Regions from separate parts of the Homo sapiens genome. Here all the other regions are linked to region 3. Evidence: fine-mapped expression QTL. A gene starts in region 3. Each other region holds a variant in brackets. All regions are shown on one strand. Distances are from middle to middle.

Region 1 (2,749 bases), 31 kb after region 3:
GGCTATGGGGCACGGCAGAGCCCAGCGTCAGAATGTGCTAGGCCTGCCCTGCCCCCAGCTCCCATCATCGTTGCAGGAGTCCATCTGAATGCCTTATATCATCCTCATTGCATAATCAAGATGCACTAAGCATAAAGCTGCAAAGCCTTTTCTTGGCATACTGAGGACTTAAGAGATTAAAATACAATGGTTAGAATCTCCAATGTGTTTTGGAACTGATAACCAAGATATAGCCTGTGTGATACATAGAGCCAGCTGCTGGATTGTTTGGTTTGGATGGTTGGGATATGCTGTGGGGGAATGGGGAAGGGAGTTTGGGGGAACAGAGGGTGCCCTCTGACCCCAGGGAGCACAGTGGCCGCAGATGTTTTCTGCTGCTCTCATGCTCACCTCTCCTGCTGCCAAACCCTGCTCTGTCTGGGTAGGACTCGCTGGCTAATCGTGGGAATCGGTTTTGCATTTTCAAAGCTGATGAAGATTTTGAAATGTACAGTAAAAGAATTAATGTGTAACATTTCCCTTTTAGATTTAACATATGAGCTGACAGTCAAAAGTTCGGAACAGACAGGTAAGAACTCCTCCCCAGAAGTAAATGACAGTAGGTTTCCCTTTGTGGTACGTGTTGGTGCCGTTTTCACTAGTCACACACTTAGGAGAAAATGCTCTTGCTGGGAAGAGTTATGCGTGTGGCCTGAGCTCTCTAAGAGAAGATGAGAAGGATGTTTGGATCCCTCCGTGTTGCAAGTGGTTATTAGTGGGCAGGGGGATGAGTGATTTTGTTTTCTTTTGAATGACACATATATTTGGAATGCCTATTATATGTTTTTCTGATTTTCCTACAATGAACATGTGTTCCTTGTGTAATCAGGACATAAAAATAGACGTGAGTTAAACCCAAAAGGAGGAGTAACAGCAGCAGCAGCATTGGGCAGAACCGCCCCCGCTCCTCCGTGTCGCTGCCGCCTAGCATGGGCCTGGCACAGAGCAGCAGCTTGCTAAATGCTGGCGGGCGAGTGGTCACATTACTAGACAGCTCCCTGAGGATCTGGGGCTTTCTCTGGACTACAGCCCCAGAACCCTCCCCAAACCAGAATCCTCCAGGACCTCAGGAAACCCCAAAGGGCAGCTGCCTGCTGGCCGCCAGAGAAGAGACAGAAACCCAGGCCTTCCCAGGGCCCTCTGTGCCTGCTGCAAAGAGCCTGCTCCCTAAAACAGGGTGGGTGTTTGGAAAGTGCTGAATCCATGTTTGTGCAGAGACACCTGTTGGAAACGGGTTTATCACGTCGGGAAGGCAATGGATGGCTCAGCAAGGCTAGTTTACTTTCTGC[A/T]GAAAGGGTGCAACTCGCCAGCAGTCTTACCACGAGAGCACACTCAAACAAAGGAGACGAGGACATTTATAATCTTCATAACCTGATGCAATTGCCCTATGACTGTGTCCAGTTTCCATTGACTGGAATGGGACCTCACATTCTAAGCTTGACCCGATTGGCTAACAGCTTGAAACTTTCCTAAATAGGCAAAAGGGAAAGAGGACAAAGAAAAGAGGAAGCTAGTCATGAGAGGGTCAGGAGAGTTTCCAAATAAGGAAGAGCATGCACTATGGTCCAGGGCTCGCTCAGCCCTGCGCAGGCGTGCCGGGGCAAGGCGGAGCAGCTACACTGGAACATATATAGAGATATACATAGAGCAAGGAAATGACAAGCTCTTTATGGTTTCAAGAAACTTTGAAGAACTTCTCCATTCCCCACAATGCCTTTTTCTAAACAGGCCTCACAATGGCAGTTACTATTCATGAGAGTGTCCAGTTCCTTGTAAAAGACACAGACCATTTCCACCAAGCCTTAGTGGATTACCGAGCACTGATTTTTTTCCATTTGCATTGCTCATATTACAGCCTCCTGAGTGCGCCACCCAGGAGCCCAGACATCTTTTTGTCTGCGTGTGGTAGGGAAGGCGCCGTGGGCTTCTTGGGGTGGTGGAATGGGAGCCTGTCCTCAGAAGTCTCCCTGTGGAGGGATACCAGGGACCTCCCCCGAAGCCCTGGGACTGGGAGCTGGGCCTGTGGGAATGCAGAGGAACAGGATTTCAGCCTGACACTAGGGACCTCCAGCGTCCACACCTGCCAGCACTGAAGCCTTGGGAAAGGAGCTACCCGTGTCATGGAAGCCAGGGCGTCCTCGCTCCCTGTCCTCTCCTGGCCCAGGCTAATCTGAAGCAGCATAGTTTTGCCCTGTGGCCTCTCCAGTCACGGTTCTCAACCTGAGGTCCCAAGGCCACCTGCCCACCCACCCACCCACCTGATGTAGTACTCCCAGCAGCAGCAGGGTCTCACAGCAAGGGCTGTGTCTTAGGGGAGGCAGTTTCAAAAGCCTCTCAGGTGGTTCCAGTCGGGGCGTCTCCCCTCCCAGTGGTGAAAATCATTGTTTTACATTAGTGCACCCAAAACTGCCCAATTCCAAGCAGTTTCGGGACCCAGGGTACAGCATAGACTCTTGGCTTCCCTCCCCTGGGGGCTGTGACCCCAGAAGTCTGGGCGGGCCCAGGGAGTGCGCAGGTTTAGAAGCGTTGCAGTGCCCTGACGCTCGGGCAGGCTCAGCAGTGCAGCGTTTGGAGACCAGCAGCAGTTGGCTGCTGTCAGCTCAGTGTGCACCAAGCTTTCATGGGAAGACTGAAATTTCCAGAAAGGGGGTACGTACAGAGGAGGAGGTGGAGTGGAGCTTTCTATAAAGAGCAAGAAATTGGCAAAACA
Region 2 (2,749 bases), 36 kb after region 3:
ACAGAGGCGAGACAGCTCACTCTCTGAGCAGGAAGTGGGAAAGAGTCTGTGTGTGTGTGTGTGTGAGAGAGACGGGGGTAGGGGGGTGAGAGAGGCGGCCAGCGGCAGAGCAAAGGTGACAGCCCCACACCTCTTCTCCTCTAAACATCAGAATTTTAATTCAATAGACATGGATAATTCTTTTTACATTTGAGTTTCAAAACAGTACTTTGAATGTAGCAGGCATTCCATAAATGCCATCTGAGCAGACAGAGGGATTTGCGGCCAGTTGAATCCTAAGTGTTTGCTGAGGTCTGATACTCTGCAATTGCCTGTTTTAAGTTCAGCATCTTTAAGGTTCAGAGACATTCTTTTATGCAGTAGGCCAGAGAACTAAGAGCCGGAAAGGGCCTCTGAGATGCCCCGATCTCCCCACCTCGGGGAGGGGAGGGGTCTTTCCAGAGCCCCCACAGCCCTGCCTTCTGCATGGCCCCCACAGCCTAGACAGGGCCCCCACCAGACAGGTCCGCCTGCCCCATAGGCCTCACCACTCGGCCTCAGTCTAATGAGTTCTTCACCTGCTTCCTCGGCTTATTCTTGTAGGAGACGGGACTTCTAAAAGCAGTGAATTAAAGAAAAGATGTGAAGAGCTGGAAGCCCAACTGAAAGTGAAAGAGAACGAAAATGCTGAGTTGTTGAAAGAACTGGAGCAGAAAAACGCGATGATCACAGTGCTGGAGAACACCATCAAGGAGCGAGAGAAGAAGTACCTGGAGGAGCTGAAGGCCAAGAGTCACAAGCTGACCCTGCTGTCTAGCGAGCTGGAGCAGCGGGCCAGCACCATCGCCTACCTGACCTCCCAGCTGCACGCCGCCAAGAAGAAGCTCATGAGCTCCAGCGGGACCTCAGATGCCAGCCCGTCAGGGAGCCCCGTGCTGGCCAGCTACAAGCCAGCGCCCCCCAAAGACAAGCTACCCGAAACGCCTCGCCGCCGCATGAAAAAGAGCCTCTCAGCCCCCTTGCACCCGGAATTTGAAGAGGTCTACAGATTCGGGGCAGAGAGCAGGAAACTCCTTTTGCGGGAACCAGTGGATGCTATGCCCGACCCCACCCCATTTCTGCTGGCTAGGGAGTCCGCCGAGGTCCACCTCATCAAAGAGAGGCCCCTCGTCATCCCCCCCATCGCCTCCGACCGAAGCGGCGAGCAGCACAGCCCGGCCCGCGAAAAGCCGCACAAGGCCCACGTCGGGGTGGCACATCGGATCCACCACGCCACCCCGCCGCAGGCCCAGCCCGAGGTGAAGACCCTGGCGGTCGACCAGGTGAACGGAGGCAAGGTGGTGAGGAAGCACTCAGGGACGGACAGAACTGTGTGAAGCCCGCCGTGCCCCACCCCGCGCTGTCCATGCACTGTGAGCACCACTGGGAAATCTCAGCCACACCTTTTCTGTTTAATCCCATGCATGCCAAACACTTTTCACACCTACCGACCCATTCTCCTTCTGCTTCTCTTGCCCTCTTCTTCAC[A/G]CCAAAATATGATCGTGTCCCTGCCGCAGAATATGTATTTCCTAATTGCTGTGGCCAAACGCCTGTGTGCCGAATCGCTTGCTTCTGATCCCGCTCCGTGTAACCTAAGTGCGCTGCAGGCAAAGCCCAGGCCACGGCTGCGTCACTACTGATGTTCACGATGCCACACAGTCACACACCTAATTCATTCTCAAGTCGGAGCAACACATACCAACCTTGACCTTATCCTCAAGCTCCAGGGCAGCCTGGCCGAGCAGCCCCTGCTCCCTCCTGGAGACCCTTGTCACCTCCCGAGCTCCTCCTGGAGACCCCTGTCACCTCCTGACCAACCTTTCCCAGGGCGGCACCGATCACCGAGCAGCCGTGCGTGTATCTCAAGGAACTAAATAAGATGACGCTACTCCTCATAGCACCACAACCTGAATGTGTGTTCATATTTTTTTGTTAGTTTTATCCAAAATGTTTAAGATCCCAACAAACTTTATTTTCTAAACCTGCCTTCCTTCTGTTTTGTGTCTTTTATTAAACAAACACCTGAAGGAGGGCTAGGAGACTGCAGGAGGGAGAGCAATCACAGGTCCCAGAAGCGACTCCGGCCTCCTCCCGGCCCAGAGCTAGTCCTTAGAATGTGCTGCGCTCCTGAGCTTCTGTGGGAAGCTGCTTTTGCCTCTGATGGCCCCTGCCCACTGTGCTGCCCGTGCTAGCCCCTCTCCTCCCTCATGGAGTGAAGCCACCCCTCACCTCCAGGTGGCCAGCCAGGGCTCCAGGCCAGCCTCATGGTGCACAGAGGGAAGGGGTGCCCAGTGACCACTGGTCCTGGAGGTTCTGTGTCCTTACCTGACCCCACACAGACCCAGGCAGGCTGGGGGTAGAAGCTCATGCAGGAACTAAACACTAAGCTCAACAACTTCACAGTCGCCGTAGCAGGTCAGAGCCAAAGAAGCTAGGGCCAGAGAGTTCTGGAAGGGGGAGAAGTGGCTCCAGGTGACTGGTCACTTCTGCTCTGTGCCCGACATCATCAGCCCTTCTTGCCAAAAAGGAGCATCTGCTGAAACAGACCTGGATCATCGAAAACACACCTTTGGAAATTACATTAGGATTCTCACTTGTGCCAATGCTATGTATGCCAGGCACTTTTGCCTAATCAAGTGTTTTCTCTGAGAAGGAAAAGAAAACTCCACACATCTTAAAATACTCTCCAATATTTACTTTTTGATTATATAAATTCCTTTTAAAAAGTAGT
Region 3 (2,749 bases):
CTAAATAAGAAGCCAAAATGCCTAAAAACCGTTCCAGCCTGTGAAAACAATAAACTGTAAATATCAGAAAACGTTCCTTGAAGAAGGCAATAGCTCAGAAATCTTTTTTCGGTATCTGGTCTCCTTTGTTGCAATAAGACAGCCCGTAAGCAATCTAGCAACCAGAACAGTTCAGTTCGGAGCAGGCTCCCGGGGAGATTTAGTTGTTAGAGTTCGGCAAGAAAGGTTTCACAAAGGAGCTGAGTTCTGGGGGAAATGAGAGGTGATGTGGCGGAGAGATGGATCCGGACGGGAAAATGTCTGGGAGGGGGTATACGGAGTTCATGAGAAGCCGGGGACAGTGAGAAAACTGCAGTCGAGTCCTGGAAGGGGTGAGAACGCCTGCGGAGGCGGGAGTCAGAGGGAAGTGGACAGCGCCGGCAGCCGGTTTACCTGGGTGAGAATCCGGCCCTTGTTGTGGTCAAACAATGGAGGCGTCCGGCGGCAGCAGCCTTCTGCGCTGGGTGCGCGAGGGGTTCCTCATCACCTGAGCGGGATGCTCGCCTCCTCTGCCGGACGCAGGGCGCCCTGAAAAACACACAGCACCCCATGCAGCCGGCTCCTCCGCAGCCGCCCGGCTCCCCGGTCCCCTGGCGCGGCCATGACCGCCTCTCCCGGGACCCGCCTGGAAGGGCTCCAAGACGCGGCTCCACGGGCGACGAGGGCGGCAGCGCTCCCCCTTCCCTCGGCTCCAACAACAATGGAGCCTGGCTCGGGAGTCCGGCTCCCGAGGGGCCTCGCCCGGCCTCGCCCTGCCCGCTGCCCAGCCCTCGCTCGCACCGGCCGCCATCTGCGCCCCCCGGCCCCGCTCCCCCGCACTGCGGGCCCGCGGCCGACCGCCCGAGGCCCGAGGGGCGGCTTCTCAGCCCGGGACCCGCCAGGCTGCGCGGAGCCGCTCTGACCTTCCCCGCCATCCCGAGGCCCATCCTCCGGGATGGGTTGTTTTTCTTTTCTTTAAGCCACTCCACCTCCTTCCCACCCCCAGCCCGCTCCCTGGCCCCCGGCCCCCGCCTCCCTCCGGGAAAGAAAGAAAGACTGCAGCCCGGCCGCCGAGAACTCACTCCAAGTGAGGGGAGTCAGCGCCCCAGGCCGCGGGCGCCGCGCACCCACCTCCCTCTCCTCAGGGACACCTCACAGGTGCGCCTCCGAGCCGCGCGCGCGCGCGCTCCGCACACCCAGACGCCTCCGGGGGACAGCGCGCGTGCGCACGCACGAGGCCGGGGAAGCCCCGGGGGAGCGGGGGCCGCACGCATGCGCGGCCACCCGGCCCGCGCCCCCACCGCCCGCCTCCGCCCCCGCCCCCCAGCCCCGGCCCGGTCGGGCCCGGCCATCCCCCACCCCAGCGCCCGGCGCGCGCGCTCCCGCTCGCCTCCCTCGCTCCTCCCCGCGCCCCCCCCTCCCTCGGGCCGCGTTACCCAGGGCAACCGCAGTGCGGCCGCACCTGAGCTGTGCGCCTGCGTCCCGCGGGCCCGACCCTCCCTTCCCCTCGGCCTTCGCCCCTGCCCCGCCACAGCCGGGCGGAAGGGGGCGTAGCCCCGCCTCGCCAAGTGAATATCGGCCCGCCGCCCCCGCCCAGCCCGGCAGACACAGGCCCGCCGCCGCGCCGGCGCCTAGCCCGCCGGGTCAGCGCGGCCAGGCCTCGCCGCCGGCCCCGCTCCCAGGGTGCACCGCGGCTAGCGCTGGGGTGGGAGCGGGCGAGATGCGCCGGGCGGGCGGTGCCCACTGACCTCCCTCGGCGGCCCGGCCCGGGCAGCGCCCGAGCCCAGGCAGCCCCGCCCGCCGCGCCCCGCCCAGCCCATGGGCCACGGGCCCCCACCGCCGCCCGCCGGGAGGACCGAGCCTAAGAGGGCAGCCGCCTGAAGGAACGCGACGGCGGCGCCCGCAGGTGAGGCGGGGCCCGGGGTGTGTCGAGTCCGGCCCCGCTCACCTGGCAGCGCCGGCGGGGGCGGAGGGGCCGGGCAGGGGCGGAGGGGCCGGGCAGGGACGGGAGTTCGTGGCGAAGACTTTAAAAACCCTCCCCGCCGGGAGACGGGGGACGGGGTCCTCCTGCCCCACCTCCGGGGCTTGGGAGCCACGTTAGCTCCCCCAGGGGCAGGGGTGGCCCCGGGCGAAGGCAACTCGGGAGACGGCGGAGTCGGGGAAAGAGGGTCCCTGAGGCTCGGCGACCCCCGCGCCCGCCCCCGCGGGGTCTGCCGGCCCTTTCTGGGGAGGGGGCTCCCCGGCCCGGGCTCCAGTCCAGGGTGCGGACCGGCCGCGGCGCGCGCCCACCCCAGTGCCAAGGGGGAGGAGAGGCCGGTCCCGGGGCGCTCCTGTCTGCCCCGGGGTGGGATCGCAGGGCGAGGGATCCGCATTGCAGGTGCACCAGGAGCGCCCCGGGGCCTAGCCCGGCTTTGTCTGGGATGCTGTGGGGAGGAGGCCGTCTGAATCCACATCGCCTTTTTAAATGCTTGTTACCACCCGGGGAACCTTAGAGACCCTCCCTGACAAGTTGTATCGCCTCCCGTCCTGGTAGCCTTTCCGTAAGTACACTACCTTGCCAGCCCCTTCCTGAAGCTTTGATGCGGCTTTAGTTTACTCTGAGTAACGATTTGCCTGTGATTCGTGAAACGGAGCAGAATGCACAAACGCAGCAGAGCTCCAGGCTTGGCTACTGGGCTGCCGTCTGCTACGGCGAGTGAGTTTCTCTAACTTAGGTTTTCATGCTGACCTG

The links. PIP is the estimated chance that this variant, and not a neighbour inherited with it, causes the effect.
Region 1: its variant is fine-mapped to the expression of CCDC92 in whole blood (TOPMed, PIP above 0.99).
Region 2: its variant is fine-mapped to the expression of CCDC92 in sun-exposed skin (GTEx, PIP 0.99). The same link has a PIP of 0.9 or more in visceral fat.

Annotation. Positions count from the first base shown.
Region 1 is chr12:123,940,563-123,943,311 of GRCh38, reverse strand. It overlaps CCDC92 (coiled-coil domain containing 92), which reads left to right. Exons shown (of 5, transcript NM_025140.3): 4 at 527-568. Among named protein-coding and RNA genes, the nearest start is that of DNAH10OS, 7.0 kb to the right of the region's middle. The variant A/T (reference allele first, on the strand shown) is at 1,329.
Region 2 is chr12:123,935,664-123,938,412 of GRCh38, reverse strand. CCDC92 (coiled-coil domain containing 92) reads left to right here. Exons shown (of 5, transcript NM_025140.3): 5 at 583-2,749. The coding sequence ends at 1,355. It overlaps DNAH10 (dynein axonemal heavy chain 10), which reads right to left. Exons shown (of 79, transcript NM_001372106.1): 79 at 2,699-2,749. Among named protein-coding and RNA genes, the nearest start is that of DNAH10OS, 2.1 kb to the right of the region's middle. RefSeq lists an enhancer at 1-364. The variant A/G (reference allele first, on the strand shown) is at 1,507.
Region 3 is chr12:123,971,704-123,974,452 of GRCh38, reverse strand. CCDC92 (coiled-coil domain containing 92) reads left to right here and starts at 1,622. Exons shown (of 5, transcript NM_025140.3): 1 at 1,622-1,924. ZNF664-RFLNA (ZNF664-RFLNA readthrough) reads right to left here and starts at 1,238. Exons shown (of 5, transcript NM_001347902.2): 1 at 1,150-1,238; 2 at 433-567. It overlaps ZNF664 (zinc finger protein 664), which reads right to left and starts at 1,238. Exons shown (of 5, transcript NM_152437.3): 1 at 1,101-1,238; 2 at 433-567. RefSeq lists silencers at 670-899, 1,010-1,089, 1,160-2,029, 2,060-2,179 and enhancers at 1,400-2,137, 2,138-2,749.